6 separate regions of the Homo sapiens genome follow, and regions 1, 2, 3, 5 and 6 are each reported to be linked to region 4. The links are microRNA targets in miRTarBase. Many come from high-throughput screens and were not tested one by one. Region 4 holds a microRNA gene; each other region holds the end of a gene's coding sequence.
What was found. The annotated mature microRNA hsa-miR-33a-5p reads GUGCAUUGUAGUUGCAUUGCA and lies in region 4 at 3,106-3,126, shown strand. An mRNA with a match to its seed (bases 2 to 7 or 8) in the 3' UTR can be bound and repressed. Matches are read on the target gene's strand: a 7mer-m8 pairs with bases 2 to 8, a 7mer-A1 pairs with bases 2 to 7 and ends in A, and an 8mer does both.

Region 1 (5,076 bases), not on the chromosome of region 4:
ATTAATACATCTCAAGGTGTACTGGCCAATTATGAAGATTATATATGTCAAATAAACATGTATAAGCAATTTATTTAAAAAAGTTTAATCATAGATGCAATAACCTACTTGTAAAATTCAGCAAGAGGCCCTCATTTCGCAAAGATTTTCAGAGCAACATATCACACTTGGTTAGTTAGTTTCCTTTTGGTATTGCTCCAAAATGCTTTCCAAAGCAGTAGGAATCAAATATCCTAGGCAACATTTTCCAAATTTCCTTACATCTAAACATCTCTTTTCTTCCTGCATTCGTAAAGTGAAAAAGTGATCTATGTAAGGACATAATTCTCTCTCAAATATCCCAGTACACTAATCACTGCCTAAATTTTGAGTACCTATTTTCTCATCCATAAAATTCAAATTTGAAAGGTTTTATCTCTTGATCTCACTTTAATCTTTTAAATAAAGGGAAATAATTATGTAAAAGATGACTTCAAAAGCAAACCATCTTTCCTTTTCCCTTATTTAGAAAGGACTTCATTAGAGTTGATCTTTTCTGAATTCGAACTTTGCTTTTTTGGAAATCAGACAAATCCTGTCAAACCCCATTATTAAATTATCTTAAACACCATCAAACAAGTCACTGATGAGTTGATAAAGGTATAACTAATATTCTCTGCTTCCTAGACCTTATGAGCATCTTAAGTAAGACTACTTAACAGCAACGTTTAGATAACCAGTCAAACACCTATCAGAGAAATTCTTTCCATCAAAAGTCTGTCCAGAGAATGAGGGCCAATTGCTTTCTCTCTACTGCACTTCTAAACAACCAACTCTGCAAGCTCCAATCACATCACCAATGTGGCATGTCATGCATGAAACAAACACATTTTAAAATATTTGAATAACTTTTCCTTAGGAAATTTTAAAATTAATAAACCCCATGTCTTTTCAGGTTGGGATGCAAAACATGAAGAAATCTGTTTTGCTTCCAAACACCTAAAACTAGTCAAATCTCCACAGGCAAAACTGTTATCGATATAGTAATATAAACTACCATATCTTCAAGGGATATGGAAGTTTTGCTGAAAATCCTATTATCAGCAACATTACTAAGATCCCAACATCCAGTGTTAAAGGACAGATATTAATAGCAACAACATTGATGAGATAGGCAGCACAGAGTCAAAGATCAAAAAAGATTCTATACTACTTGTAAACAAGAGATCCAATCTTTCATAACATCTTATTGATAGGGTTGAAAAGATCCCTAAAAATATTTTTTGTAGGATTTAATCCAATATTTGTCTACTTCTACTCTTTGATTACCCTACAATTTGAATATGTTCACGACTCTACAACCACTAAACAAGAGAATGAGATGACTAGGCTAAATGTTACTGCTAATGAACTAAAATTTGCACTGCAATTTACCTTGAACAGAAGAAACACTAGTAAAATTTTAGTAAAATTTTAAATACTAGTAAATACTAATTTAAAGAATACAAGTCCAACAACTACAGTACCCAGTGTATTTTGTCATATGGCTGTAAAATTGAGACAACATATATAGTTTAACCATTAATAAATTACCATTACTGACTTTTGGATTACACATATATTTATACAAACACACACAGGTACACACATATATCCACTCCAGTAATGCACCAGAGGGTAGCTGGCATGACCCAGTCTTCCCTCTAAGTTCTAATACTTTACTGTGCGTTAGAATCACCTAGAGATCTTGTTAAAACAGATTGTTGGGTCCCACCCCAGAGTTCCTGATTCACTAAGTCTGGAGAGAAGCCTAATAATCTGCATTTCTAACAAATTCCTAGGTGTTGATGTTCCTGCTGGTCCAAGGACCACACTTTAGGAACCACTGCTGTAAGATCTGTGAGTCTCAAAATCTAGAAAAAAGAGTGAGAGAGGGAGAAGGGAAAGGGAGAGGGAGAAAGATTAAGCTAACAGGCAGTATTGAGGAAGGAGGCAGAGGACAAAAGTGAATTCAAATACTTCCCTCCATCCCGATGCTTGCCTTTTACCTTGCTATTTAGCAAAGACTAAGGAATCAATGATGACTTCTCAAAGTACAATCTATTAGGCCAACATAAAAACCTTTTCATACTTAAGAGGAGAGAGAGATGGTTTCCATGACAACTTTTAGAGCTATAACCATGCTAGAAACTCTTCCGCCTTTCAGTGCACCTAGGTGGTATTACTTTCGAGACACTGAAGGATCAGAGAAAGCTAACTAATGCGTGTCTCAAATTTTAAAAAAATTAAGGTTCACTAGTAAAACATGGGTGAGTAATGATGATAATCAACAACTACCATAACATGCAGAAAATCCACATTACAGAAACAATATGATTGTGTTGGAATTTGTCAAACAAGTATTAAAATTTTATTTAAATGAACGTTTTTAAGTTATTGAGCCATGTTAAGGGAAAACATTAATTTTATTAGAACTTGAACAAATGTTTCACAAAGAAAACATTTTAACAAAATGGTATGGTGGCATAACAATAACAAAAAAGAGAACAGCAAAATGTGTAAAAGAAATATAAGGTGGAAAAATTGTTAAGTATCTCATAATCCAGTGTGGAAATAAGAAGTCTAAATTTAAAAACAATGAATTTTAAAAAGCATAACTATAAAACAAAAGTTAATGCTTGTGCTATCCTAACCACAGACACATTCTTCAGCAAAACTTTAAAAGGCAGAGTTACATTTTATGGTATTTAATATCTCTTTTCTGTTGTTTTTTCCACAGAAATAGAGACTGTTTATTCAATCTCACAGTTGAAAAAGAAATTTTAAGCACTGAGAAATAAGTATTCTACTATTTAAAATGACTGGTGAGGCAAAACAATTGATTAGTCTTTAATGCTCTGTTTTTCAACTGTACTAAGGACTTCATCCAACCAAAACAAATCTTAAGCTTCAGAACTCTCTAATGCTTAAGGAACGCCTCTGCCTGATTGCCATATAAGGGAATCAAGAACCTAGTAATCGTGGAGTACTCTCAGGGACAAATGTAGGAAGAGAGGACACAACAGAGTTTTCACAATTTTAACAAGTAATCTGTCACCATTTCAGACTACCAAATGCTAATTTACTTAAGACAAATTATTTAAGTATATATTCCCACCTTTGCAATTTATTTCTAAATACTGATATATTCATTTTTTAAGCAGACCACATCAGGTTAATAATGGTATAAATCAATTTGAAAACTATAATAAACTACTTCAAGAATAGGTATATTTTTCCATTATACCTTGATCATTATGTAAAGATGCAATTCTTACTTTCTTGGTGGTGAAGCCTATGGGAAATTAACTCGGAAATGTTTCAAAGAGATTGTCAACCAAGACAGGTTTCTACATGATTGTCATTTTACAAAGATAACAAATTTCACGTTTTTAAATGTCTTAAAACAACATAGTTGTAATGTTTATAAACATCAAAGGCAAACATTTAATAGTCAAGCCCTTTGCATTCTGAATATTTGAAATTTACACAATACGCCCAATTCAAACCTAAATGAGGTATATTTTCTTTTAAAACATTAGATAACTAGCAAATATATAATACCAGGAGCAGTTTCAAATTAAATTATATTCACAGGCTTGCTTTTTGTTTGTTTTTGCTTTGTCCTGTCATATAACACACTGCGATGAGTCTTCGGATGTGGCATCTAACAAAAAAGAAAGCTGCACATGGTCACTCTGTGTGTTGAGTTGTAAGTATGTGAGATAAAAACATCTTTGTGGATTATTTTTAAAACGATAAACTGCATTACCAAACTTTATGATTTTACGTATGTAAGTATATATTAGAGATCATTTGTGCATTAACAATTGTATAGGGAAGCACTAAAAGACAAAAACATTATAATGATATTATGGCAGTGCTTAACAAATTCAGAATATTTTTATATGAAAAACCTATGCTGTAAAAAATCTCAATCAAAATTTTGCTTTTTGATTGCATGGGTCGCAACCCACAGAAAACAACAAATAAATTGGTCAGGATTTTTTTAGTTTAAGAAGCAAAAATTTAAGAACCAAAATATGCACACCACTGAAAATACTAATTCTTAAAATTATGTAGCTAAAAATTAAATCACCCTGTCCAGCAAGTTCCAAAAATTTCACACATTTCAAACATTAAGGCAACTTTTTCCAACTAAACAGTACTTTATAAAAATAGATGTCACTTCAAAACATTATATACACAGTGACAATAAATTTAGCTAGTTGTAATATTTAATACATTAATAAAGTTTCACATATTACAAAGAAATTATACTAGGTGCTTGCATATATGTGCTAGTAATATTACAACTTTTAAAGTACAGGTTTTAAAACTGAGCGTAGTGAACGTCCTTCTTTAGTGAGTTCTCGTGTCACACACATACATGGCAAAGGGATTGCTTCCTCCCGTTTCTCGACAACATTGTAACTGCATTTCTTCAAGTGGTCTGCCATGCTTAGGATGTCAGCAAATTTCCATTCATTAACAGAACAAAATGCAGTACTAAATCGCCATACCTACAAGAAAATTCTACTTTAGATTTAAACAAGTCAATGTGTAGAGAATCAAAACACACTTTTTGCTCCTACTGCATACATTTCTGCTATTATAGAAGCATCCAATATAAAGTTTCAAATAGCTATAAAATTAAAAATTGGTAAATCCTTTTGGACATAAATGTATGTCAAATATTTACAAGGTAAATCACTTCTATGACATTATGACTTCAATAAATCTAAAAACAATAAAAGACAAAACTCAGTATTAAAAATCACACCCAATCTGGCTTACTAAATGATTTTTAAAAAATCAAAACTGCACAAATTCAGAGCCATTTCCTAAAATATTATATACTACACACTATTCTTTCATACTCTCCAATTGGCTATCTAGAACTAATTACACTCTGGAGATACTGACAATGCAAGTGTTATTTTTTTTCTCCAAGTTTTTCTCTCCCATTCCTATTTATAATATCAGTACTAAAAAATACCCTAGAATATTGTGTGCCAAGGTAAGTTTCTTTTTCCGCTGTTCACAAGTACTAAAGGT
Region 2 (5,000 bases), not on the chromosome of region 4:
CTTGAGAACGTCAGGGGGCCCTCATGGGTGGCCAGGAAAGGAACATGTGCCGAATTTCCTTCTTCCCCTCCATTCCAAGAACTATGTGAATGAGACAGGCATAGCAGGGCTCTGTGCCTGCAGTGAGCTTGCGCCTCAGTTTCCCTGTCTGCTTCCAGGGCCCCTCCCAGTGGGTGACGCTGGAGTTTCCCCAGCTCATCCGTGTCTCCCAGCTGCAGATCCAGTTTCAGGGTGGCTTCTCCAGTCGCCGGGGCTGCCTGGAAGGTACTAGAAGGCCCTGGGTGGCAGGGGTTCCAGGGGTCACCCCAGACACTCATTGCCTTTCTCTGCTGAAGGTTCACAGGGCACTCAGGCTCTCCACAAGATTGTAGATTTCTACCCTGAGGACAACAACTCGCTTCAGATATCCTGCCCCTGCTTCTGGGGTGGGTGGTCTGTGCCTCTGGAAGCTTTGGACTCACCCAAACCCGAATGGGAACCCTGATGTGTGATCTTGAACACGTGACCTCTAGGACTCCACTTTTTCTGTAAAATGGTGCTGATGACCACCTGTTCTGTGTGAGAGGCTTAGAGGGACCTGCAGCTTCCCCAGGTTGCCCACATCGGTGGAGTGTGAGCTGGGTCTGGAAGGGGTGGGGGCCTGCGGGTGGGAAACCAGAAATCACCAGTTTCCCTTGACTGCCCACGCTCACACTTTCCCCATACCAGCTGCTGAAGTGGACCGGCTGAAGGTGACGTTTGAGGATGCCACTGACTTTTTTGGCCGTGTGGTCATCTACCACCTGCGGGTGCTTGGGGAGAAGGTGTGAGACCTCTAGGGGCTGTCTCCTCCAGGAAGCCCTCCGGGAAGCACAGCAAAGTCCCTCATTCTGCACAGAAGGTTTATTGGTTCCTCTTGGGAAGGGTCCCCTCCCACCACCTGTCCAGAAGCTGCCTTTGAAGTCAGTTCTGGGTTTCCCCAGCTCTGGCTGACCATTTTGTTCCCTGAGTGTCTGAGTCCCCGGCAGGCGGCCTTCACTCAGGGTCAGCGGGCACCAGGTTGCTCTGGAAGAGCTTGAGGATGTGGTTCTCGATCACCTGTTGCACTGAGATGGGGCAGGGAAAAGGTGGGCTGTGAGCTTGAATCGGGAGTGGGGTGGAGGCACAGGCCAACCTGCGCTCTCCCCTTAGGGGACAAACAGGGACCCTTGCAGAGACCTGCATTACAGAGCAAAGCTGGGAGAACCGAGGACTCACCCCAGGAACCTCAACTTCCCCTAAGTTTGTAAAAATGCACTTTTGTAGCTTTTCAGAATTAATATAAAAATATTTCCTACCAAGCAAAATGTGTGAATTGTGACTTTCATGAAAAGATGAGCCTGGGCATGGTGGCTCACACCTATAATCCCAGCACTTTGGGAGGTCCAGTGGGGAGGACTGCTTGAGCTCAGGAATTTGAGGCCAGCTTGGGCAACAGAGCAAAACGCTGTCTCTACCAAAAAAATTTAAAAATTAGGCTGGGCTTGGTGGCTCACACCTGTAATCCTAGCACTTTGGGAGGCCAAGGTAGGTGGATCACTTGAAGTCAGGAAAGGCCAGCCTGACCAACATGATGAAACCCCATCTCTACTAAAACTACAAAAATTAGCCAGGTGCAGCCGGGTGTGGTGGCTCATGCCTGTAATCCCAGCACTTTGGGAAGCTGAGGCGGGTGGATCACCTGAGGTCGGGAGTTTGAGATCACCTGACCAACATGGAGAAACCCTGACTCTACTAAAAATGCAAAAAATTAGTTGGGCATGGTGGTGCATGCCTGTAATCCCAGCTACTTGGGAGGCTGAGGCAGGAGAATTGCTTGAACCTGGGAGGCGGAAGTTGCAGTGAGCCGAGATCACGCCATAGCACTCCAGCCTGGGCAACAAGAGCGAAACTCCATCTCAAAAAAAAAAAAAAAAAAAAAAAAAAATTAGCCAGGTGTGGTGGCAGGCACTTGTAATCCCAGCTATTCAGGAGGCTGAGGCAGGAGAATTGTTTGCCTGGGAGGCAGAGGTTGCAGTGAGCCGAGATTGTGCCACTGCACTCCAGCCTGGGTGACAGAGCGAGACTCTGTCTCAAAAAATAAATAAAAAAGATTTTAAAAATTAGCTGGGTAGAGTGGTACATGCCTGTAGTCCCAGCTACTCAGGAGGCTGGGGAAGAAGGATCACTTGAGCCCAGGAGTTTGAGACCAGCCTGGGCAACATAGCGAGACCCTGTCTCTTCTAAAAAAACAACAACACAGCCAGGCGTGGTGGCTCACACCTGTAATCCCAGCACTTTGGGAGGCCAACACAGGCGGATCACAAGGTCAGGAGTTCAAGACCAGCCTGACCAACATGGTGAAACCCCGTCTCTACTAAAAATATAAAAATTAGCCGGGCGTCATGGTGTGCACCTGTGGTCCCAGCTACTCAGGAGGCTGAGGCAGGAGAATCGCTTGAACCTGGGAGGTGGAAGTTGCAGTGAGCCGAGATGGCGCCATTGCACTCCAGCCTGGGTGACAGCGCGAGACTCCATGTCCAAAAAAAAAAAAAAAAAAAGCAACAACAAAAAATTAGCCAGGCATGGTGACGAATGCCTGTGGTCCCAGCTACTCGGGAGGCTGTGGTGGGAGGATCACTTGAGCCTGGGAGATCGAGGCTGCAGTAAGCTGTGCCTGCACCACTTCATTCCAGCCTGGGTGATAGAGCAAGACTTTCTGCCTCGAACAAAAAAACAAACCCCCCGAAAACATGAGGAGGGAAGAGGAATGATTTCTGTCCCAAACACAGTAAAACTCTGAAGGAAGGAGGGGGATATTTCCTAAGCACCCCATCTCTACCATGACCCCAGGGGGTCGGTTCAATTGGGATCTCCCCATTTTATGGATGGGGAAGTTGGGGTCCCATTGTGACAGAGAAAATGGAGTCAAACTGGGGTCTGCCTATGGCCCCTGTTCAAACCCACTGCCCGCCACGGAGAGGGATGGCCTCTGTGGCTCTGTGCACTATGGCCTGGTCGCCTACCCCTTGGTGTCCTCACTGCCAGGCCTCCGCAGGGGCCACTCCTCCCACCTGGATGCCATTCTCCCTCCCTTCAGGTCCCCCAGAATCCTTCCCTGACCTCCCCATCCCAGGGCTGGGCCCACCTCACTTCTCGGGGTCTCAACCTTAAGACACCTTCCTCCAGGAAGCCTCTCTGACTTCTGTTGGCCACTTTGGGGCTCTTTGATGAGAGGCCCCTCTTTCGGCCTCTCATGCCTATGTGTCCCCCATCATGGCCACAGCCACTGACACCCATTGTCCTCCCTACCCCAGCACATGTGGAGCCCCAGGAGCCAGGACTGGGATGTTCCCAGGCGGGATACACAGCAGTGCTCAACACCTGTCAACACACTCTCGCTGCCGGCGTATGACCACTGAAGGGGTGTCCCATGTACCCCTTTATGGTCACCCTGCCTATGGAAGGGACCCCACCCCTGCTCTGTGTGTCTCAGGCTGACCTTTCCGGTATCCCAGGGCCACGGCAAGGTCCATCGGGGTGTAGCCAGAGTCGGCTTCGGTGGTGAGGTCAGCGCCTCGGGCTGCAAAGGAGAGGGGAGGGCGCTGGAGGGTGGGGCCTGGGAGTCCAGAATGGGGTCTGGGGACCTGGGAGATCCCATGGCACCCCTCATTCCCCACAATGCAGCCGTGGGTCTGCCCGTTGCCCATGTGGCCTTTGACAAGGGTCCAACCTCTGCTATCTTGGTCTCCACTGAAGAACGTGGCTGAAGGGTCTCTGAACCATGGAGGATGGAGGTGCTTAGCCTCTTGGCCAGATCCTAAACCCAGACCCCGACTCCCGTGTGGTCCTACCACCTCCTCCCCTCTGATCCATCCTCCGAGAAGAGCAGGCAGGGACTACCTGCTCCAAGAACTCTTCAAGCAACACTTGGGCGTCTCCCTGCCCTCAGGATTCCCGCAGGGCCCGCTGGAGTGCTGGGGCCCCCAGGGCCACTCCCGACTCCCACTCACCCAGCAAGGCCTCAACGCATTTCACGTGGTTCCCGCGCACAGCGTACAGCAGTGGCGTCCCTCCATTCTGTCGTGGGTAGGGGCAGGAGAAACCAAAGGTTTACCTCTTCCTCATTCTCAAAATGCCTTGTACTCTCTGGCCTCCAGTTGAACGTGGTTCCTCCTGCTCATCACTGGGCCCATCTCACTTTCTGGGGTCTCAAGCTTAGACACCTTCCTCCAGGAAGACCTCTCTGATTTCCCTTGCCCACATGGGGCTCTTGTAGCCACCTGTGCATCTGCCATCGCAGCGCAGTTCACTGCATCTCAGCTGCCTGTTTCCATGTCTGCCTTCCCTGCATGGGGAGCTCTGCTCTGTGAGGCTGGGAATGGGGCTGTCTCGTGTTCTCGGCACCTAGAGCAGGCCTGCACCTTTCAAGTACTCTGTGAACATTTGAGGCAGGAATGAAGGCCAGGAGGCTGAGAGGTCCTGGGGATGGGCAGTCCCTCACCCAATCATAGATGTTGATGTCCACGTCACGCTCCAGCAGCAGCCCCACAATGTCTGTGTAGCCGCCTGTGCTGGCCAGCGACAGGGCGCTCTCTCGCTCTTTTGCCAGGATGTGGGGGTCGGCACCCTGCAGGGAGAAGAAGGGACAGTGGTAGGATGGATTGGGGCATAACCAGGAATCCTGGGGTACCCACAGCAGCCGCATCTTTTTTTTTTTTTTTGGAGATAGAGTCTTGCTCTGTTGCCCAGGCTGGAGTGCAGTGGCGCAATCTCGGCTCACTGCTACCTCCGCCTCCCAGGTTCACACAGTTCTCCCACCTCAGCCTCCAGAGTACCTGGGATTACAGGCACCCACCACGACGCCTGGCTAATTTTTGTATTTTTTTAGTAGAGACAGGGTTTCACCCATGTTGGCCGGGCTGGTCTTGAACTCCTGACCTCAAGTGATCCACCCGCCTCGGCCTCCCAAAGTGCTGGGATTACAGGCATGAGCCACTGCA
Region 3 (5,090 bases), not on the chromosome of region 4:
TCGGTAGTATATCCAACTACATAATTTTACCAACTACCTCACACTTATAATTCTTTTACTATGTGCAGGCAGTGTTCTATGTACTTTAGGTATAGTAACTCATTTAATCATTCAACAACCCCATGAGGCTGGCATTGTTCATTGATTTTAATGAGAAAGCTAAGAGAGGAAATAAGTAGCCTTTCAAAGGTCACACAGAAGTAAGTGACAGATCCAGGATTCATATCCAAGCATTCTGGCTCTAGTGTCCATGCTTCTCAACCATTATGACCCAATATTCAACCAAATCAATACTGAAGGACACGTGAAATGTATCCGGTATTTTACTATTACAAACAAAAATCCAATGAACATTCTTGAAGACATACACAAAAATAATGGTTACAATAGAAGTTACTGGAATTGAAATTTTGGTTCAACCTATATTAAAATGTAAGGCTTTTGATATAGCTAATAGATTTTTGAAATGATCAGTCTTAACGTTTGTAGGGGAGCACACTCCTGCATGGGGAAAAGATTCACTGTGAAGCACAGAGCACCTTTATGGTTGGATCATCTTGTCATTAAAGTTCAGGCGTTATCTATCCTGTAAGTGGCAGAATCAAGACTGCAATATCGCCTGCTTTTCTTTTTAACTCATGTTTTCCCTTGACTACACTGGTCCTCAAAGTAAAACCCCTGTGTCAGTGTACTATTCATGGAATACTCTGCAATTATAACCACCTTCTAATACTTTTAATACCCAATCAAAATTTATTATACATATGTATCATAGATACTCATCTGTAAAGCTGTGCTTCAAAATAGTGATCTCTTCCCAACATTACAATATATATTAATGATGTCGACAATTTGATAATGAAACATTGTCCAAAATATTCCCCATTAATACAACAAAGACATAATTATTTCTATTTCCATGCCAGCCATAAGCATAATTTTGCAAAGTGATCATCTTAGAATTATTTAATCTCTAAATACAGCAAAAACAAGAAACCAAGTTAATATTGTTTTATTACATCTCCCCACATCTGTAAATATTACTTTACGCATCCAATTTTTGCTTATTTTAAGCAGCCAAGTTTCTTTAAAAGCAAAGTAACTTCTTTTAATAGCAATACTAAAACTCTGTTTAAAACATTGCAAAACAAACCCCACTGCATTTTAGACAGCTGCTTCCTTATAAAAGTAAGAAAAAACATTCTGTATATTTACATAAAAAATTCTAAATCATTCACTGGGGGAAAAATGAAAGCTTTAAAAATATATTTTCTTGCACACTCAAATACCATAAATTTCACCTTACACATATAAGGAAATAATAATACTACATATGTGAAAATATAGAAATGAATCCCTAAAATTAAATTTTCATTTGAGAGAAAAGAATTACAAATTCGGGCATACATGCAGACCAGGTGGTTTTCAGCATGTTCAAAGAACAAAGAGATGGTTAGAGGTTTTATAAACAGGGAAGTGATACTGGTTGCTCTTTGAGAAAGTTTATCGGCACTAGTAAAGTCTTGGGGAGGTAGCAGGTTTTGATCGGTGAGTGAGGGAGTGAGCAAAACACAGTGGGTGTTTCAGTAGCCGTTAGATAAAACTGGCTTCTGGATACAGCAGGAAATTTCAGCAACTAGGCTTACAGAGAATTCCATTCTCAGACCAATATTTTGTGCCCTGAGTTCTTTCTCCCCCTGGCTTCTCGACTGTCTTTTGGTTGAGTATTTCAAGATTGATCCAATTCGTATGATCAACTTTCACACATGTTCAAAATGATTACATTAAAAGAAGACGACTTTAAACGGAAAACAAGGCCGGGAGCGGTGGGTCATGCCTGTAATCCCAGCACTTTGGGAGGCCGAGGCAGGCGGATCACGAGGTCAGGAGATCGAGACCATCCTGGCTAACACAGTGAAACCCCGTCTCTATTAAAAATACAAAAAATTAGCCGGGCGTGGTGGTGGGCGCCTGTAGTCCCAGCTACTCAGGAGGCTGAGGCAGGAGAATGGCGTGAACCCGGGAGGCGGAGCTTTCAGTGAGCAGAGATCGGAGCCACTGCACTCCAGCCTGTGCGTCAGAGCGAGACTCCGTCTCAAAAAAAAAAGGGGGGGGGGGGGGCAATAAAAAGTCTAAGTCTAAAACACATAGATTTTAGGGTCAAATTAGAAAACAGAAAATGTAGGAATAAATCAGAATTTTAGATAGGCATTTAATTCATAGACCTTCTTAGTGCCCAGAAGGAGGGCTGCAGAAGGAATACAACAATTCCCATGAATGCCTTGTTTGTTCTGCACAACCAGTTCAGGCTCATCCTGCAAATGCCTTCAGACTCATCATGCAGTCAGCTCTGTCTCCTTGATTTCTCACTCCAAATAAGGTGAGCCATAGAGAAGAGGTTGGCTGATCCCTCACCGGACTCAAATGGCAGTTGCCATTGGCCTGAGAAAGGAAAAGGCAGTGCCAAGCCTAGGAAAAAGTATGAAGCAGACGATGTTGCTTTTACTCCCACCCATATTCCTTGTGGCCTCTCCTTGCCCTTGAAGGCCTGCATCTTCCTGTTGCCCTCTGACTGTACAAATAACCTACTTGGGCTGCTTTCTCCCAAAGTTCCCTCTGTTCTAAAATGACAACTTGATCTTTTTCTTTTATACATTCAAAATTTCTATTTCTTCTATTATTTTAAAATTTCTCTGGAGAAAGCAAACTGATTAAAAATTAATTCACGCTGAAGGATGGTGGAAAACCTGGAGTCACTTAAGGGAATCTCTGCTGGAGGTGTTGCTTTAGCAGAAAGCCGAAAGAAGGGGGCCCACAAGGCCTGGCTTTCCTTGATTCAGGCCAATGCCACTCAGAAGAAGGGCAGTGAGGAGAAAAATGAAATTTTGTAGCTCCCAGACCTGATCAGGTGTCAAGTTTGTGGGGCTTAGGTTTAAGGACAATCAATCTCCCCAGGGTGCTTTCAGTAAGATCCTCCCCTCAGCTCCCTCTAGCCTCTAAACTCTAGGAGGACATGGTTATTTGGATCTAAATTAAAAAGATGTTGGTCACTATAAGAGAGAATAGAAACAGCAATAGAGGATTTAACTTCAGTAAAGGTAAGTTTTAAAATGTTTTTGTTATTAGCTCCCCGAAAAAAACACCTCATCTCTGGACCCTTGCTACCAAAAAGCAGGGAACCCCAGCTGCAGCGAGTATTCCCCAGTTTGCTACTAACTTGTGGATGCAGAAATCTTGAAACAGACTGCAAAGCAAAGCTACTGTTCCATTGGATTCCCTATTTCCTTCCCACAGAAACCAGAAAAGTTTAATTTATTTACAATTTTAAACAAATTACACAAATTGGACAGGAACTATTTCCTCATAGACTCAGTTATAATGCAGCATTTAAGAGCCCAGGCCTAGGAAGCTCTCTCTTTTTTCTATTGTAGGACAAACTATACCCCAGCCTCATTTCAAGTTTTTACCATTTTCCTCTTTGTTCTCATTTCATTTTAAATATTGCATTGATTAATAATAATATACACACACACATTTATTTCCAACTATATTCCTATAGAAAATTGCTACTTCATAGGGCACTTCAACACATTTTGCCTCCAAAGTCAAATGAATTTGGTAGTGCAGTAGGGGTGAGTCCCAATTCTTTATGAGCTGCAACATTTTTAATTTAATTCAGTCTTCATTGTTTCTTTTCCAAAACTTTCTTCACATAGTGATACTCAATATTTCTTGTTTATTTTTTAAACTATCACTTAAAGTGAATACATAATAATGTGATATTAGCATAACTTAGCTATTGTTGGACTAATATTTATCCAGCATATTTATTACTAAAATATCCGTAAAAAAAAAAAAGAGCAGATGCTTTAGAGACCTTAATTCCAGTGCTGGAGTTTGAGATTTACCAGTTGTCTGTTTTAACATTTTTCACTTTTTGGAAAAGATAAGCAACAACTTGCTTTAAAAATATAAATTGGTGAGTAGCATAATTCAAAATTGAGAAAAAAATCATCATATACATACATGTTGAAATTGAACTTTACAATATTATTTTTGGAAACCTCCAGAATGTCTGACAAAGACCTAATTGTAGCACTGTGACATTATCTCTTTGTGCATGCTTCTGCTAATGTAATAAATTTGGGTTCCAAATTATTTAAAAAGTCAAGGCCATCTTCTTCCTGCTTTTCACTGCAGCAGCCCACAGAACCAGCTGGAGATCCTCTTCCCTCATAGTTATAAGTGAGGACATAATCTTGGGATGGCATGCGGTCTTCATTCTGATTACATCGATGCAATTTCTGTAAAATTTTTTAAAAAATGAATTGCATTATAGTTTTAAACAACTTAAATATATGAACATAAAATTTATTTTTATTTACCTTTTATGTTTAATTTTTAACCAGTGTGTCCTCTAATGGATTCCTACACACAGAAAATGCAAATGATTGGTCTATATCACAACCATACCATAAAGTCAGTATAGTTTACATTTCTAGTGCTCCATATAAATAAAAAATTATGTATACAAGTTTTATATTTAAGTACATTCAAGTTGTCATTAAATGCTTATCCCTAAATTTTATACACAGAGGTCAGTCTAGTCTAAAAAATAGAGACAATAGTCATACTGGTTAGGAGTTTGAGATAGGATGTCAAACAGCCTTGGTTGTGAGTCAAAGCTCTGGCTTTACCAACTAGCTATATGACTTTGGGCAAGTGACCAAATATCCTTTAGTCTCAGTGACCACCTAACAAGATTATTTTAGAAATTAATGACAAAATAATGACGCATAATACACTTATTATGCCCAGCACATATTAAAGGTACAATACATGTTAACTTGAATCACTATTATATGCAGTTATAAACTAGGTAGGATTTACCACATTAACTTCAGAAGCAAGTTTCCAAGATACTCAAACATGGCAAAATATATACATGCATCGAAAAGTTCAATGAAATTAAAAAGAATGAACATGACCCATATTGCAAAAACTGGGCTTTTATAATGAAGACGCCATGCATTCAGCCACATCTACCCTCTCTGCCACTGGCCTGTCTGCCAACTCGTCAACTGCCATGT
Region 4 (5,090 bases):
CGCTGGTTTTGTGGGATCACTACTGTCATCATTTTGCAGTTGAGAAAACTAAGGCTGAGAGAGGAGAAGACTTAAAATATTCTAACAGGAGCCTGTTCCAGATACTTTGAAGATACCATTCTTTATGGCTATTGAAAGCTTAGGTTGTATCCATCTTTTTATTTAAAAACAACACTGCAGTCAAATATGTGTTAAACTTTTTTCTCTCTAAGCCAGTTTCATTATGACAGACTGCCAAAAATGGGATTACTAGCTTAACGGGAGTGAACTTTTTTATTTTTTTTGAGACGGAGTCTTACTCTTGTTGCCCAGGCTGGAGTGCAATGGCACGATCTCGGCTCACTGCAACCTCCGCCCGCACCGAGGTTCAAGCGATTCTCTTGCCTCAGCCTCCCTAGTAGCTGGGATTACAGTCACCCGCCACCATGCCCAGCTAATTTTTTTGTGTATTTTTAGTAGAGAGGGGGTTTCACCATGTTGGCCAGGCTGGTCTCAAACTCCTGACCTCAGGTGATCCACCTGCCTCAGCCTCCCAAAATGCTGGGATTACAGGCGTGAGCCACCGCGGCCAACCAGGAATGAACATTTTTAAGGCTCTTGATATATATTGCCAAACACTTTCCAAGATTGTGCTGGTCTATTCCCCTCCCCCAGAATCCTGGGTGTGGGAGCCCAGAGGCTGCTGGCCCGTTCCCAGCAGGCAAAGATGTTACCCATCTCCTAGGAAGGAAGTGTAGCAGCCTCTGAGCGCCACAGGTCTCGTTTCTGTGGGTGCTGGAGTGCGTTTGGTGCTGTTCTCCTCTAGGTCCAGACATCATCTGTCGGTGGTGGACGTCTGCAATCACTGTGGCCATCAGCTGGCTCCAGGGAGACGATGCAGCTGTGCGCTCTCATTTTACCAAAGTGGAACGCATCCCCAAGGCCCTGGAAGTGACAGAGTGCGTAACCCTCCTTGGCCACTCACTTGCTTCTCTCCAGGGGAATCTTGTTTGAGTTAGCAGGAGCAAACTGGACTGGGTGGGCGTGTTGGGGTGAAGGGTCAGGACTGCATGACAGGTGGGCGGCTAGAAAAGTCGGGGGTGAGGGCACCATGGAGAACTCAAGTTGGGCCAGCAGGTCCTCTGTGCAAGTGTCCTGCTCTGCACAACACGACAGTTGTCCCAGCAGCTGTCAGCACTGTGTCCGGGTCCTCCTCCCTGCAGCCTTCATGGCGCCACAGGCTGAAAAGAAGAGACGAGAGCAGTGTGGCCCCCAGCATCTTCAGAAGCTTTGTGGTGGAGGCAGGCACTGGTGGTTCACAATCAGTGCAGAGAGGCCACTGTTGCCCCCAAAACTCATGTGCACTGGAGCATCTTGCCCCTGTGTGCTAGCATTTTATCCACTTTCCTTCCAGCCACCTCCACCCCCACCATCAACCCTGGCAACTTTGTCCTGTAACTAAAATAGCCTTTAGCACATGGCATAACCGGAGAGCTTTTGACATTCCTCTTTGGAGATTCATGTCTGCGTCTTGGGGGCATTCGGCACTAGTGATGGGCAGCCCTGCCTGCTGACTCCCCGGCTGTTTCTAATTGGATCTGAGTATTCTAAGAGAAACTGTAAAATGCTCCAAGACAGAAAGGCCCCACGAGGTCCTATCCTTAGAGCCAAGGCTGTAGCATTTCCTATCAAGCAGACCCTTAACCGGCGCACAGGAAGGAGCTGAGAAGAGTGAGTATACACAGGCTTGAAGTCCTTTGTTCCCTGAAGTAGATGTGACACCCTAATTTCATTGAAGTAGCCCCATTTGTAAGCACTCTGACTAGGTAAGCACCCAGCCCGGTATAGCATTCCACCTGTATGTGTGTCTCCCCCAGTCGATGTGCCTGAGGACACTGAGACTCAGCAGGTAAGTTGTCCAAAGTCACCTCGCTCCAGAGCAGCAGAGCTTCCATGGACAGCCAAGACACCCCTGCAGGCACTGCTGCCTGCTGGATTCACTTACCCCTGGGTCCCTCTGCTTTTCAGGGACTAGGATGCTATGAGAACCCTCCCCCATCCCTAGCCTCCCCTTCCACTCCCAGTCTCCTCTACAGAAAGAAGCTAACTAAGTATCTCCAGAGAGTTTAATACCACATCTCTGGGGGGGTGGTCCCTTAAAGAACGGGTACAACACCTTATTGTGGCCACTTTATAGGTAAGGAAACTGAGGCACACGTTGGAATGACTATCTTGGGTGGCTTCTTAGCAGCAGACGTGATGGTGAAGCCTGTGTCTCTGACTTCCAGCATTGAATGAAGGTGCTAAAGGGTGGGGCGCTAACCCTAGCTCAGGGCTGGCATTTCAGATCTGGAGCTGGTGGCATGGTGCCATAGTGGCAGCATTGGAGTCAACAGATGCACATGTCATATCAGTGTGGGGCGTGGCAGTCACTGGCTTGGGCCCCTCTGCCTGTCACGCAGGTGACACATAGTGACCTGCCTCTCGACTCCCTGTCACTGCTGCAGGAGCCCCCTGGTGAAGGCCATCTTCCATGCCTGCAGAGCCATGCATGCCTCACTCCCTGGGAAAGCAGATGGGCAGCAGAGTTCCTTCTGCCATTGCGAGAGGGCCAGTGGCCACCTATGGAGCAGCCTCAACGTCAGTGGGGCCACCTCTGACCCTGCCCTCAACCACGTGAGTGGGAGCTGAGTTGGCCCCTGGGGGAGGTGCTCTGCACTGGTTTACGAGAACACTCCCACTCACCTCATGCTGACCCTGCGGGTGGGGCCATCCGAAAGACAGAGAAACCAGGACAGCAGCCCCCTTTCAAAAAAGTTACGGCTTATTGGCCTAGGTGGACTCCTTTTTCATCCCTTTTCAGCCTCTGAGGCAAGTGTGTTTCTACCTGCACCTTTCTTAGGCTCCCAGAGTCCCAGGTCCTGCTGGCCCATAGCCTCTGTAAGCCCAGGTGCACCCCAGCTGGCCAGGGGTTCACCTGCATTTGCTCCAGCGGTTTGCGTGACTTCCCAGGCCTCTGCAGGCAGCCTTGGAGTGGGTTCCTGCCCCCTCGGGCACACAAACAGAGCTGAAGACCACCCTGGGCACCTCCTTGGCTGGCCGCATACCTCCTGGCGGGCAGCTGTGGTGCATTGTAGTTGCATTGCATGTTCTGGTGGTACCCATGCAATGTTTCCACAGTGCATCACAGAGGCCTGCCTGGCCCTCGAGAGACTGCCCTGACTGAAGGCCCTATCAGGTGGGGGAGGGGATCCTGATAGAGGGCACTGCTGCCACTGTTGGGGCCCAAGTCACAGCCATCCCAGGAAACAGGAGGGCACCCAGCTGAAAGTGGAGCATCACCTGGTCTACGGGGAACATGTCCTTAGCTCCAGAGTGGGAGGGACCGGGAGAGTCCTGGAGATTCAGATTCTCAGCCACTCCCTGGGGCTTGGTCTTAGCTGGCTAGGCTAGTACTTCAAGCTAGATATTGTCAGTGGACCTGGGCACTGGGATGAACCCAGGACAGCGTGGCAGCCCCTACAGGGACAGGCAATGTGCAGAAAAGGCCCAAACTGGCTGGACGCGGTGGCTCACACCTGTAATCCCAGCACTTTGGGAAGCTGAGGTGGGCAGATCACCTGAGGTCAGGAGTTCGAGACCAGCCTGACCAACATGGTGAAACCCCGTTTGTACTAAAAATACAAAAATAAGCCAGGTGTGGTGGCATGTATCTGTAATCCCAGCTACTCAGGAGGCTGAGGCAGAAGAATCACTTGAACCCAGGAGGTAGAGGTTGCAGTGAGTCGAGATTGCACCACTGCACTCCAGCCTGGGCAACAGAGCGAGACTCCATCTTTAAAAAAAAGCTGGTGGGGGTGCCCAAATGCCCTGGGCTGCCAAGACCAAAGGCAGATGGTGAGCCACATTTCACCTTCTCTTTTGGGCTTTCCATTAGTCTCTTCCGTATTTGTCTTCATGAGAGAACCAAACAGTACAGGCTCAGTTTGGGGAATGAGAGGCTTGCAGCCACCCTTTGGACTGGGGTTCCTTGGTAGCAGCTCTGTGGTAGGAAAGTGAGCCTAGAAGACAACGCCATGCAGCCTGATGGCCCTCGGAGGGCAGAATCCAGACATAGGCCTGCTGCCTCCATGCCCACAGGTGCTTCTGCAGCATGCACAGCTTAGAAGTGCCAGGTTTTGAGGAGAGGGATCCTTTTCCACATCCCCTTGAAGCACACAACAGCCAGAAAACAGTGTAGGCAAGGATCAAGGCCTTGTGCAGGGACAGGGCAGGGTCTTCCTCAGGCCCAGTGTCCTGGGAAGGAGGAAAGCCAGGGCTGGGTGAGATGAGGCTCAGCCTGAGGGAGTTCATCAGGACCGGAGGGCTGCTTGCGGCCCATCTCAACAAGGACTCCTCACTGCTCGGTGTCGTGCAGGTGTGCCACTGCGAGCCGGGTGGGCAGCCCAGCCCCATAGGTCGTAGGCAGAGAGTATGCATGGCCCACATGCAGTACCTTCTCATATGATACAACAGCCCTGTGATGGTGCCATTTACATTTTTTTGAATGAAGAAACTGAGGCTCAGAGAGACTAAGTCCTATGCCAGGGTCATGTAGCTAGTAAGTGGCAAAGCCGGGTCAGTAGGCCTAGTCCCCAAGCACTAAGGCACTCTGTGGTTCTGTCTTCTGAGACACCTGTCTCCCTCTCCCACTCCTCCTCCTCCTTCCCCCAGCCCCATCGACAGGCTCTGCTGCCACTTCAGGCTTTTCCTTGGTACCTTGTGGGTATCTCAGCCTCCTAGCCAGCCATGGTGGGACTCCCATGGGGTGGAAGAACCTGCGCCTTCAACCCACAAGGGTTTTATTTCTGCCCCTGCCACCTGCCTGTGCTGTATTCCCTATACAAGCTGCTGTCCCTGTCAGAGCCTTGCTTTCTCACCTGCAGAATGGGGAGGGCTTGTCTCCCACCTCCTGGGGCCATGGAAGGAACTGGTTCTCCCCTGAGCTGTTCCCTCACGTCCTGCGGAGTTCACCAGACTCTGGGGCTCTCCACTTCCTCCCAGAGCTGCTGAGTGTTGGTCTGGGGAGAGGCCTGGTAGGTGCTAGGATCCTTGCCTCAGGGATGGGCCAG
Region 5 (5,090 bases), not on the chromosome of region 4:
TGAGTTTCCCCGCTTTTGATTTTAGCTTCTGTTGTTTCTGGCTTGATGTTGCTGGCTTGGACAGGGTGCAAAGAACCTGTGGATGTCTGAAGTTTCTCTTTCTTAAGTAGTAATCAACTAAGATTGTATTGTTTTTTTGTGACATTGATTCTCTTCAGAATTAAGAATAAAAAGTTTATTAATATAATGATGTGAGGAATTACTTCCTTCTAGAATAAGGAACGCACTTTCATTGTCCTTGAAAAATGAAAAATATTTTCTAAGCTTGTGTCCCTCCTTGCTTGATTTGCTTTCCTATCCTCTTCTCCCTACCCGGGGCACATCACAAGCTTAATATTTAACATTTAATTAAGTGTTAACATTTTTAGCATAGAAGAGGAATACCTAAAAAGCTAACTGAGGTGTTTATTTATAAGCAAGAGATGAGTGAGCCATAAGTTCTCCTTGCCCTCCCAGAATTGGCGTTGTTTTTCTACTGGGATGTGGCTCAGTTTGTAGATGAATGTGGAGTGTAGAATGGTGATGAGAGAGAGAAGCTGGGATATGTGGGTGGACACGCAGGGCAGGTATGGAGTCCTTTGGGAATTTTAGCGTGGCAAGTATTTGAACTTAAAGTGAAAGATTGTAAGAAATGTGTTTATGTTTCTTTGTTATCCTAGGTGCTAAAGGAAGCTTCCCAGATGAACCTCCTGGCCAGGGTGTGGTGGTACAGGCCATTTCAGTACTTTGAAAAGAATGTCCAAGGAATTGTACCTCGATCTTACCATTGGCCTTTCCCCTGGCCAGTAGTCCACCTCAGTAGGCAAGTTAAATACAGCCGGCTGGTGAATGACACATAACAGCTGTACAAAGTGGGGAAAAGACAAATTGTCCGAAGTGCTAAGAACTCCATGAGAGAAGATGCCATAAAATAAACACCTCCCTAATCCTATTATCTTTCAATGGTTACCTTGACTTAACCTATTGAGTTACCTGGTCAGCACTGTGATCTTTTTTTCTCTCCAAAGGACCTGCGTTGGACAACAATAAAGAAAAATTTAACCTATCATGCACTGTACACATTTCCTGTTCATAAGTTTGGGATTTACATAACCCGCAACCACCATGTTCCTTTGTATATGATGCAGCAGCATAAATGTAAGCTTTTATATCATAAGTTCTGGTCTTTCCAGTCACATCTGGAAATAAAGCGTATTATTTTCTTGGGAAAACATACTTTTCATATCTCTTGCCCCAAAGATTGGGCTGTAAGCCATTTTCTAGCAAATGTCTCTATGAAGGTTTCTAAGTACCTGAATGGGGTTTGATTCTGAAATCTTTCTACCTGTTGCACCGATATTCAAATAAAAATGATAGACACAGAAAGGTTTGGTAACTTTGGGTTTTGTAAAATCAGCAAAGGCAGTGTTTCAAAAAGTGCAAAAAAAAAGATTCTGTTATAAAGTGATTTTCTAAGTATTTCCTAACTTTATTTTTCAAAATGATGTTATGAACACCAAATTTAAAGATTTTTAACATGTCAGAGAGAAGAGAGTTAAAATTTAAAAATGCATCTTGGGAGAGAAATTTGTCTATGTTTCTAGTGCCTTTCTTGTCTTGATTGTATGGTCAGTAGGCAATCTTAAATGTTTTTATTTAAAATAAAGTATTCCTTGAAAATATAAATATATGTATACACTACTAAATTTTGCATTTATAGCTAAATTGAATCAGAAGACTGCTTATGGTTTTAAAATTGCAATGACTTAAATAATGAGGTTGTTAATTAGAGTCAGAGCCTGTTCACATATTGTGATCAGGTAGCAATGACATGTACCACTTAAATTATTTTATCGTCGATTTGGTAGTTCAATTTTAACTACTCAATGAAAACAGCCATGAATATCTTTTCTTAAAGAGAGTTTTGAAAATGATCACTTACCTAAAACTTGAAAGCTATGAATTAGTTATCCATACTCTCATGACAATTTTGTTGGTGAACAACAAAAAAGAGATCTATTTCTTTAAAAGATATTTGTGCAGAAACTGCATGTAACTCTAAGTTTTACTCCTAACATACATATGTTTGGGGAAGTATTCTATTCTATACTTGCCAATGTGGAGAACAAAATAGTTTTTTAAGAATGAAGAAGTATATATATCCATTCTGTATTTTACGTGCAGCAGAATTATCTTCCGTAGGATTTTTTTGTGTATTCACAAGGTGATATTTGTATTGTAAAACAATAATGGTGAAGGAAATAAAAAGGCTTTTAAAATTTTGTTTGTTTTAAATCTTTGTAAAGTTATTATTCCAGAGAGTATACTGGTATCTTACAGCTTACCTAGATCATAAATTAATCAAAATGCACTTTTTAATAAAAACTGATACTTAAAATAAATGGCTGTTATTTCTACTGTGTTCACATTCTTCACAGAAGTCATAAATGGAGCCATTAAAGCAAGATAGAAAATCAGTTTCAGAATTTCTTCATGGAGTGTTTCTGCTTGACATGGGACTTTTAATAATTATCTGGATTTTTTTCCTTGGGATTCCTTAAAATATATTCTAATCTTTAGTAAATTCTAGAGAGTTTTTTAATATATAAAAAGAGTCACATGTAAGTTAAATTCAAACTTTAGAACAATGTTTACTAACATTTTGAATTCTCTAATTCTCAACCAAATTGTTTTTTTTCCTATATCTGGCAGTAATATAGCTTCTCCAGTGTAGATGGAAAGGAAAAGTAAATCCAAAGTGAGAAATAGAGTAATAGTACTATGATAAACCAGTGGTAATGGAAAATAACTATTTAAAAAGAATAAAAGGTTATTATTATTTCTGATGTGGTGACTAAAGGAAAATGTCAACAGTGGAGATGTGTCTTTGATAAAGGATGTGTTAAGGAGGCTAGAAATGTAAAACCAGAGGCCAGGTGTGGTGGCTCACGCCTGTAATTCCGGCACTTTGGGAAGCCGAGGTGGGCTGATCACTTGAACCCAGGAGATTAAGACCAGCCTGATCAATATGAAACCCAGTTTCTACAAAAAATACAAAAATTAACCTGGCACGGTGATACATGCCTGTGGTCCCAGCCTCTCAGGAGACAGGTGGGAGGAGCGCTTGAGGCCGGGAGACAGAGGCTGCAGTGAGCCATGACCGTGCCACTGCACTCCAGCCCCAGCAAAAGAGTGAAACTCTATCTCCGAAAAAAAAAAAAAAGGAAATTAGAACCAGTAAAACTTTTCCTGTGTGGGGCTTTAAACTTGTGTATCAGACAGGGGAAATGTGGTGGCCTCTTTAGGCAAATAGAGCCAAACCCTTGGATAGGTCTTTATTTAACTGTTATAGCCTTTCACTAACTTTGACTATCAGCTGCTGCCATATTGAAGGGAAAGTAAATTGAGTAAGTGGAAATGATATATTGGCACTTGCTAAAAATAGGATTTTTTCCCTAAAAAACTAGAAATCATTATATAAAAATTTGTTATGAGTTTACATGCCACATATGTATCAAGAAATCCACTGCTGATTGTTCTTCATGGCTGACTACACTGATTCATGAATTGACATATCTTCTGGGTCTCTAGTGTGCAAATCCCAGGAAGGACAAGGAGAAAGCTCATTGTATTCTAGAGTATCATTGTACACTTGGTAAGGATTGCCTGTATAAGGACATGTGCTTTCTCAATGTCTTTTTTTTTTTTTTTTTGGCTCACTTAAGTTAGACATTTTACATGTATTAGTTAACCCTCACACATCCACAAAGTGTAATTATTATTGCCATTTTACAGATAGACCAACCAAAGTGACTCAGATATATTAAATAACTTGCCCAAGGGCATGCAACTGGTAACTGGTAAAAGTCCTATTGGAAGCCAAGTTTCCCCCCTCCCCCATCAATACTGTGAGCTTTCATAAACTCTTCAGTAAGAGTCTGCAGTGAGAGAAACCTATGCCTATGGTGGTAAAGCATACTCTCACCATGGACTGAGGAGCAAGAAATTTACACCATAAGGTGTGAGAGGAAAATTTGACTGATTTCCTAATTGCTATATGTTTTATTTGTATCCCAAGCACATGCCAAATTTTGATCAATGTGATAAATATCTCATAATACCTCATACAATGGAAATGCATGCCAACCTTAATTTGACCACCAATATACAAAAAGTCAACCAGATTTCTGAATTTACTAGAAAACAATATGTTGCTTGGATCACTAGATATTGACATCCTTTATTTTTTTTTCTCCCTGTAGTCAAGAAACAATTTGAACAAATCAAAGCTGTTGACTTGGTATTCTGCTTATCAGCACCTTAAAATACTTATCCATCTCCTAGTTTACAGTACAAGTCAGAAGGAAATTAAATGACCTTTCACATTTAAAGTGATAGTTGATATAACTGAATGAATATCTATCATGTTTGTAACTCTTTTCTGTTTGTTGCATTTGTCCTCTCTTCATCCCTTCCTTTTTCTGTCTTCCTTTAGTTTTGAACAATTTATGATTCTATTTTATCTCTTATCATACCAGTTATTCTTTTTACGAATTTTTAAATGGTTGCCCTAGAGTTTACAATATAAACTTTTTTCCAAATACAAGCCTGCCTTCAAGTGTAGTGTAGGCATTTTATAACAACACATTCCCAATTTCTCATTTCTGCCCTTAGAACATTGATGTCATTCATTTGACTTATCCATATGGTATAATCACTCAACACATTATTACATTTATTACTTTGAACAAGCAATTACCTTACAGATCAATTAAGAACAAGTAAAGATTTTGTTCATCTTCACTTATTTATTCTCTGATGCTCTTCTTATGTAGTTCAAGCTTCTAACCAACATCATTTTCATTTTGCCTGAAGAACTTCCCATTTCTTGCAGGGCAGGTTGGCTGGCTTTTTTCTTTCAACATTTTAAATATTTCACTCCACTTTCTTCTGGCTTACCTAGTTTCTCACAAGAAGTCTGCCATAATTTTATTCTTTTCTTCTATAGGTAATATGTTTTTTCTCTGACTTCTTTCAAAAATTTCTCGTTGTCTTTGCCTTTCTACAGATTGAATATGAAATGCATAGGTGTAGATTTTTTTTGGTGAGGG
Region 6 (5,083 bases), not on the chromosome of region 4:
TCGCCCATGGATCGAAACAGTGACGAGTATCGGCAACGCCGAGAGAGGAACAACATGGCTGTGAAAAAGAGCCGGTTGAAAAGCAAGCAGAAAGCACAAGACACACTGCAGAGAGTCAATCAGCTCAAAGAAGAGAATGAACGGTTGGAAGCAAAAATCAAATTGCTGACCAAGGAATTAAGTGTACTCAAAGATTTGTTTCTTGAGCATGCACACAACCTTGCAGACAACGTACAGTCCATTAGCACTGAAAATACGACAGCAGATGGCGACAATGCAGGACAGTAGACCTCACCCTTTCCAGACTTTAGAGCTTGTGGCTTGAATGTTAAAGGTGTGACCACCGACACCACTCATGTCAATGGCTGAAAGTTGTCCATTTCCATGACTCAAAGACCCATTGGAGGCTATTTTCTGGGATCAGCACTGAAGAGTTGATTAGCTAAAAATGTTAGCCTTGTAATTCGAATATCTGGTTTTAAATGATAGAGGTTTTTGTGGGAATCAAAATCCCCCAAATGTTAAGGTATATGGTAAAAAAAGAAATATCTGGGATCCCGATGTTCTTAATAAATCCTGACTTCCCAAGAAATGCTTCTTTTTTAAGTTGACAAAAGGAATGGGGAACTGGCAGGCCGCGCAGAAGGTTCTTGGTTTTAATGGATAGGCTGAATTGGATTAAGAAAAGTTGAATGCCACCTATGGTAATCTATTTGTGATTTTCTTCTAAATTATGTATTATAAATTCGTAGAGCTATAGAAAGCAATGAGTGTGTAATTTGGAGTGATTTTATATATGGCATAAACTTTGTTTTAACATAATTAGTACTGTTTTCCCCCAAAAGTACAAGTTTTTGAGTAGCAATGTCAGGTTAAGTAAAGAAACTTCATCACATCTTATAGGTAGTGTGTGGCCAATTGACTTAAAAAATACAAATAACATTTAGGAAGCAAATAGATTAAACACAAAAATAAAACTAAAGCATAGGAATTATGTTTTTGAGATACCTTTGGGCTTAGATTGGCATTGTTTTATTCTAAAAACCCAACTCAGTGGTGTAGAGAAACTTGTGTACCAAAATTTTAGTTTCTGCAGATGCTAGTGTTTTTTTGGATACAATTTTGACAACCAAGTTAGTAAACAAAATATCTTAACAGTTTGATGACACAAGCTACTGATGAGGGTTTGGAATATTAATTCAGAAGGTAGTTTCTCTTGTGTTCAAAATAGCTGCCATGGGGCTGTTACTTTTAAAGTCAAAATTTTCTTCTGAAGGCTCATTTTGGTATTTGATCTTAACCAAGTGATTATTAGAGAAATGTATCAACTCCATGCCATCTCCCAAAATAATTGTCTAAGAAAACTTGAAAGTGTAAGGTTTTAACCTTTAATTTATTTCTCTTAAATACATCTTTTGATATTGTTGTTGTGACATTTCTTTTTCTGGTTAGTGGGCTTTCCAGACTTTGTACCACTGCTTCTGTTTATTCATTTATATGCTTTTGTGTCCCATAAATTATTTCAGAAAATGCTGATAAAACTCAGGATATTGACATTTTTGTTGAGACTAAAAAATGGCAGTCGCTAAAGTAGGGACTCTAGAGTCTGGCTTACGTCAGTGTTGGTAGTTTAGATTGTCTTTGTCAACGTTTTTTCTTCTCTCTTTTGCTTTCTTTTCTTTCTCTTTTTTTCTTAGCACAGTTCTAGCTCAAATTTGTGTATTTTTTGTGTGCCTGGGCTGGAGATGAGAGACTGAGTCATAACTGATTTAAAAGTTTGTGTTATCAGGTATCTTATTTGAACATGGTCATTTTTGGCCACATTGCTGTTTCATACTAGGACTTGGGATGATGTAGCCAGAATAAAACTCAAGTTGCACCCTCCGGTTGGTGGAAGATTGCTGACCGTGCCGTTTCTGGGCAGGAGAAGACATCATGGTGTCCAGCAACTCAGCAAAGCCATTCTTAAGAGTCGTGAGGTCCTTCTGAATGTAAAACTGGAGCCCAGGAGAAGCTGTCCCAGGAGGGCTGTTAACTCCCTATAGAGCCAGGAGACAGGATAGGGGTTTCTAGGGTCCAACACCAGCTTACCTTGGAGTATGAATCTACCCATGAAGGATGAGAGATGTTTTGAAAAACTAGCCAGGACACACCCACAGGATCCTACTGGCTCCTTAGCAGCTGATTGGTGTTACATAATTAACTTAATTGGAGATGCATTAGGTCACTTGAATGTATAAGCAAGCACCTATGGTAGGCGCTACAGACATTTAAATCTCTTGGGAATTCGATGCTCCCATGGAATTTATACCAGTTATATGAATTGACTTAAGTATCTTGAAAAAGAAACTTTAGAGAAAGCATCAGGGGTGTGTACTCAGTATTTCAAATCAGAACACAAGATTGGAACTTTTGGAAAAATGGGTTCAAGCTTTCCTATTAGCCATGGAAATGCAAAGTTTAGCAGAAGCAAGCAATTAGGCAGAGAACAAAAATGTTAAGCATGGTGTTGTCTATCTTATTGAAGTGGTTGGAAATGAAAGCTTTTAATTTGATAGATTTATCAGTATAAAATTAGGGAAACCACGTGTGGGGAATGAATCAATTTAGAGCTTCGGGAATTGTGAGGTGACTTTTGTAACTTTTGTTCTGTGTGTGACCTGTGAACCACTAGGATGTGATCTGCCCTTGTGGGCAGGTCCAGCATAGTTAGGAGTTAGGCTTTAGCATAAATTTCTAGCTGCATCTGAGTCTCCTGGGATGGGTGCTCTTTGGCTGGTTTTGGCTGCGGATGGTGAGATCAGAGCAGCTCTTCCTGCTGCTGGCCCCTGCAATCAGTTGTTGGGATGCCAGTGCAGATCACTAAGTAGTAAGATTTTAATCAAACACGACCAGGTCCGAAATGCAGGTCATGAGTGTGAAATTCTCAAATTTACATAAAAAGTAGAAGTATAGACAGTTTAACATTTGGTATTAAAGGAGAGGAAATTGTAGCAGCTTTTCACGTTTCCCAGTCCCCATTAGAGGGCTTGAGACCTTGTACCTGAACAACCCATTTTGCACTCAGTGCTTTCTGATGCCTTAGGAGAATTGTTTTGTTTCACAAAAGCTGGGAAGGAAGAAGTCCATTCTGCAGCTGTTAGATCTGCCTCTCAGGAAAAAGTACTAACTTGTTCTTTTTGTTCCTGGCTTTCATCAGTTTGTGAGATTTCTCTATTTTTTTTAAATATAATTTTATTTCTTTCAACAAATATAAAATAAAAAACAACTTTGGAACAATGACTTGTCTTTCATCGTGGCTTTCTTTATATTAGATACCAAAAAGCAGTCCAGATGTTAAACAGCTGGGAAGCCCAGGCAGGTGCCTTGCTGTCTTTCCTGTTCCCACACTGGACGGCTGGGGGTAGGGGTGGGGAAAGTGGGGAGACAGGCAGAGGTATTTGTGTCCAAGTCTAGATCTCCCCGTTTGCCCTTAGTGGATAGGAAAATAGTTTTCTCTGAACATGGGATACATCTTTAGTTATATTTTTAGTCACTTGGTCTAAACTAAAAATTATACCAGAATAGGGAAAGGAATAACTGAATAAATGGGTTCCCGCTTAATCACCTAGTGTCTCAGAACATGGTTTCCATTTAGAGAGGGAAGAAATTCTTATGTTTCGAGATAGATAGTCAAGAATTTAAAGTAAGGCCTTTCCCCATCTGGAGTTTTGTAGTACATGTGGACACTGTCCTCATTTACGTCATAGAGTGTCTGTAGAGATGAATTTGCTGATTTCATAAACTGTTGAGTCCAGGGAGCTGATGTGAATTGAATATTTCAAGGGAATGCCATTTAAATGCTTTTCTTCTCTGATGCCTCAATTATTTTCATGTCTTGGGAAATAAATCTCTGCTTGCTGCATCTTAATGAAAAGTGGAGGTCAGGAATTATTTCTATGGGAAGTGTGGCCCGTTTCACTTTTTTGAATTAGTTGTGATTTAGAATCCAATAACGTGTCTTGGGGAATTTTACCGAGTGATGACATCTTTGTGAGGGGGGCCGGTCTTTTTCTGACAAAAGCACTTTTAGACCAGCTCATCCACTGCCTGTGCCTAGCCAGAGAGTTCATAAGCGTTTTACAGTTTTACATACATTCAGAGAACACCATTGCCTAGGTATTCTTTTACTGCAGTATCCCACTCCTCACAGAGCTCTAGGCCTGAAAGCTGTATAGAGGCATCTAGAGAAATGGGGGTTATAGAATTGGACTTGGAAAAGGAATAGGATTGTCAGTGAAACAGTCACGCGTTACACTTTTTGCAGCCCAAACGCCACCTCTTGTCCCTCCCTGTAAAGAAGCTGTTAAAACCAGATGCGCTTCCACATCGCCACCTTTCACTTCCACCTTCTAAATGGAGCTCCGGTACCTGTCTGCTTCACCCACCCCGACCCCCATGCAGAGCCATCCTCTTCGCTTGCCTGGACTTGGTGACTGGCTCCTCGTTGGTGTTCCTGGATGGCAGCGTCACTGCCTGCTCTCCAGAACCATCTGTTGCTCCCCATTGCACCCGGGGTGAGACTCAGTCTCCTTGTGTCGTGGCGTTTCCCCTCATCAACTTAATTTCCCTCCATCCTCCTGTGTCACTCTACTTCGGCTCTAGGGCTTTTCCAAGCTCTTTTCTGCCCTTCCTGGGACAGCTCCTTCTGTCTGGAATGAAGCATCTCCTCTGGCTTTTCACTAACAAGTTCCCTCTCTGTCTCAGCCCCCTGGCTGTCTACGCTAAGCCTATCCTGTTGCTTGCTTCATGGCACTTTGCAGTGTTTGAGACAATATATTTGTTCATGCTGGTTTGAGGTGAAGGCCTCGCAGCAGACTAGAGGCTCTGGAAGGAGGGGTCATGTTTGTATCCTGCACTGGCAGAGTAGATGCTCAATTATGTATTGAATGAATACCTAGACACTGAGTTTCAGAAGGGTTGTAGCACACTATACAGCTTTCTGGCGGGGTCTCTAATGGATTTCTGAAGCTACATGAATTTCTGCAGAGGTTAGAAGAGACAGAGTTAGGTACAAACATGGGGGTAGCGGAGGTAGCTACTG

Region 1: the mRNA of FBXO30 is a reported target of hsa-miR-33a-5p. Seed matches in the 3' UTR shown: 7mer-A1 at 3,482-3,488.
Region 2: miRTarBase lists NR2C2AP as a target of hsa-miR-33a-5p. The part of its 3' UTR that is shown has no 7-base or 8-base seed match.
Region 3: the mRNA of DSC3 is a reported target of hsa-miR-33a-5p. Seed matches in the 3' UTR shown: 8mer at 3,502-3,509.
Region 5: miRTarBase lists SGMS1 as a target of hsa-miR-33a-5p. The part of its 3' UTR that is shown has no 7-base or 8-base seed match.
Region 6: the mRNA of CEBPG is a reported target of hsa-miR-33a-5p. Seed matches in the 3' UTR shown: 7mer-A1 at 2,451-2,457.

The regions. Positions count from the first base shown.
Region 1 is chr6:145,795,769-145,800,844 of GRCh38, forward strand. FBXO30 (F-box protein 30) reads right to left here. Exons shown (of 3, transcript NM_032145.5): 3 at 1-4,541. The coding sequence ends at 4,338. All of the region lies in intron 1 of EPM2A-DT (EPM2A divergent transcript), which reads left to right. Among named protein-coding and RNA genes, the nearest start is that of FBXO30, 16 kb to the right of the region's middle.
Region 2 is chr19:19,197,734-19,202,733 of GRCh38, reverse strand. It overlaps NR2C2AP (nuclear receptor 2C2 associated protein), which reads left to right. Exons shown (of 5, transcript NM_176880.6): 3 at 159-264; 4 at 336-403; 5 at 693-1,325. The coding sequence ends at 809. It overlaps RFXANK (regulatory factor X associated ankyrin containing protein), which reads right to left. Exons shown (of 10, transcript NM_003721.4): 7 at 4,502-4,627; 8 at 4,011-4,077; 9 at 3,500-3,580; 10 at 868-1,085. The coding sequence ends at 1,015. Among named protein-coding and RNA genes, the nearest start is that of NR2C2AP, 3.2 kb to the left of the region's middle. RefSeq lists a silencer at 78-344.
Region 3 is chr18:30,990,069-30,995,158 of GRCh38, forward strand. It overlaps DSC3 (desmocollin 3), which reads right to left. Exons shown (of 16, transcript NM_001941.5): 16 at 1-4,304. The coding sequence ends at 4,107. Among named protein-coding and RNA genes, the nearest start is that of DSC3, 50 kb to the right of the region's middle.
Region 4 is chr22:41,897,844-41,902,933 of GRCh38, forward strand. MIR33A (microRNA 33a) reads left to right here and starts at 3,101; the gene lies at 3,101-3,169. It overlaps SREBF2 (sterol regulatory element binding transcription factor 2), which reads left to right. Exons shown (of 19, transcript NM_004599.4): 15 at 806-938; 16 at 2,487-2,655.
Region 5 is chr10:50,302,891-50,307,980 of GRCh38, reverse strand. It overlaps SGMS1 (sphingomyelin synthase 1), which reads left to right. Exons shown (of 11, transcript NM_147156.4): 11 at 660-2,381. The coding sequence ends at 839. Among named protein-coding and RNA genes, the nearest start is that of ASAH2, 54 kb to the right of the region's middle.
Region 6 is chr19:33,379,405-33,384,487 of GRCh38, forward strand. CEBPG (CCAAT enhancer binding protein gamma) reads left to right here. Exons shown (of 2, transcript NM_001806.4): 2 at 1-3,282. The coding sequence ends at 288. Among named protein-coding and RNA genes, the nearest start is that of CEBPG, 8.2 kb to the left of the region's middle.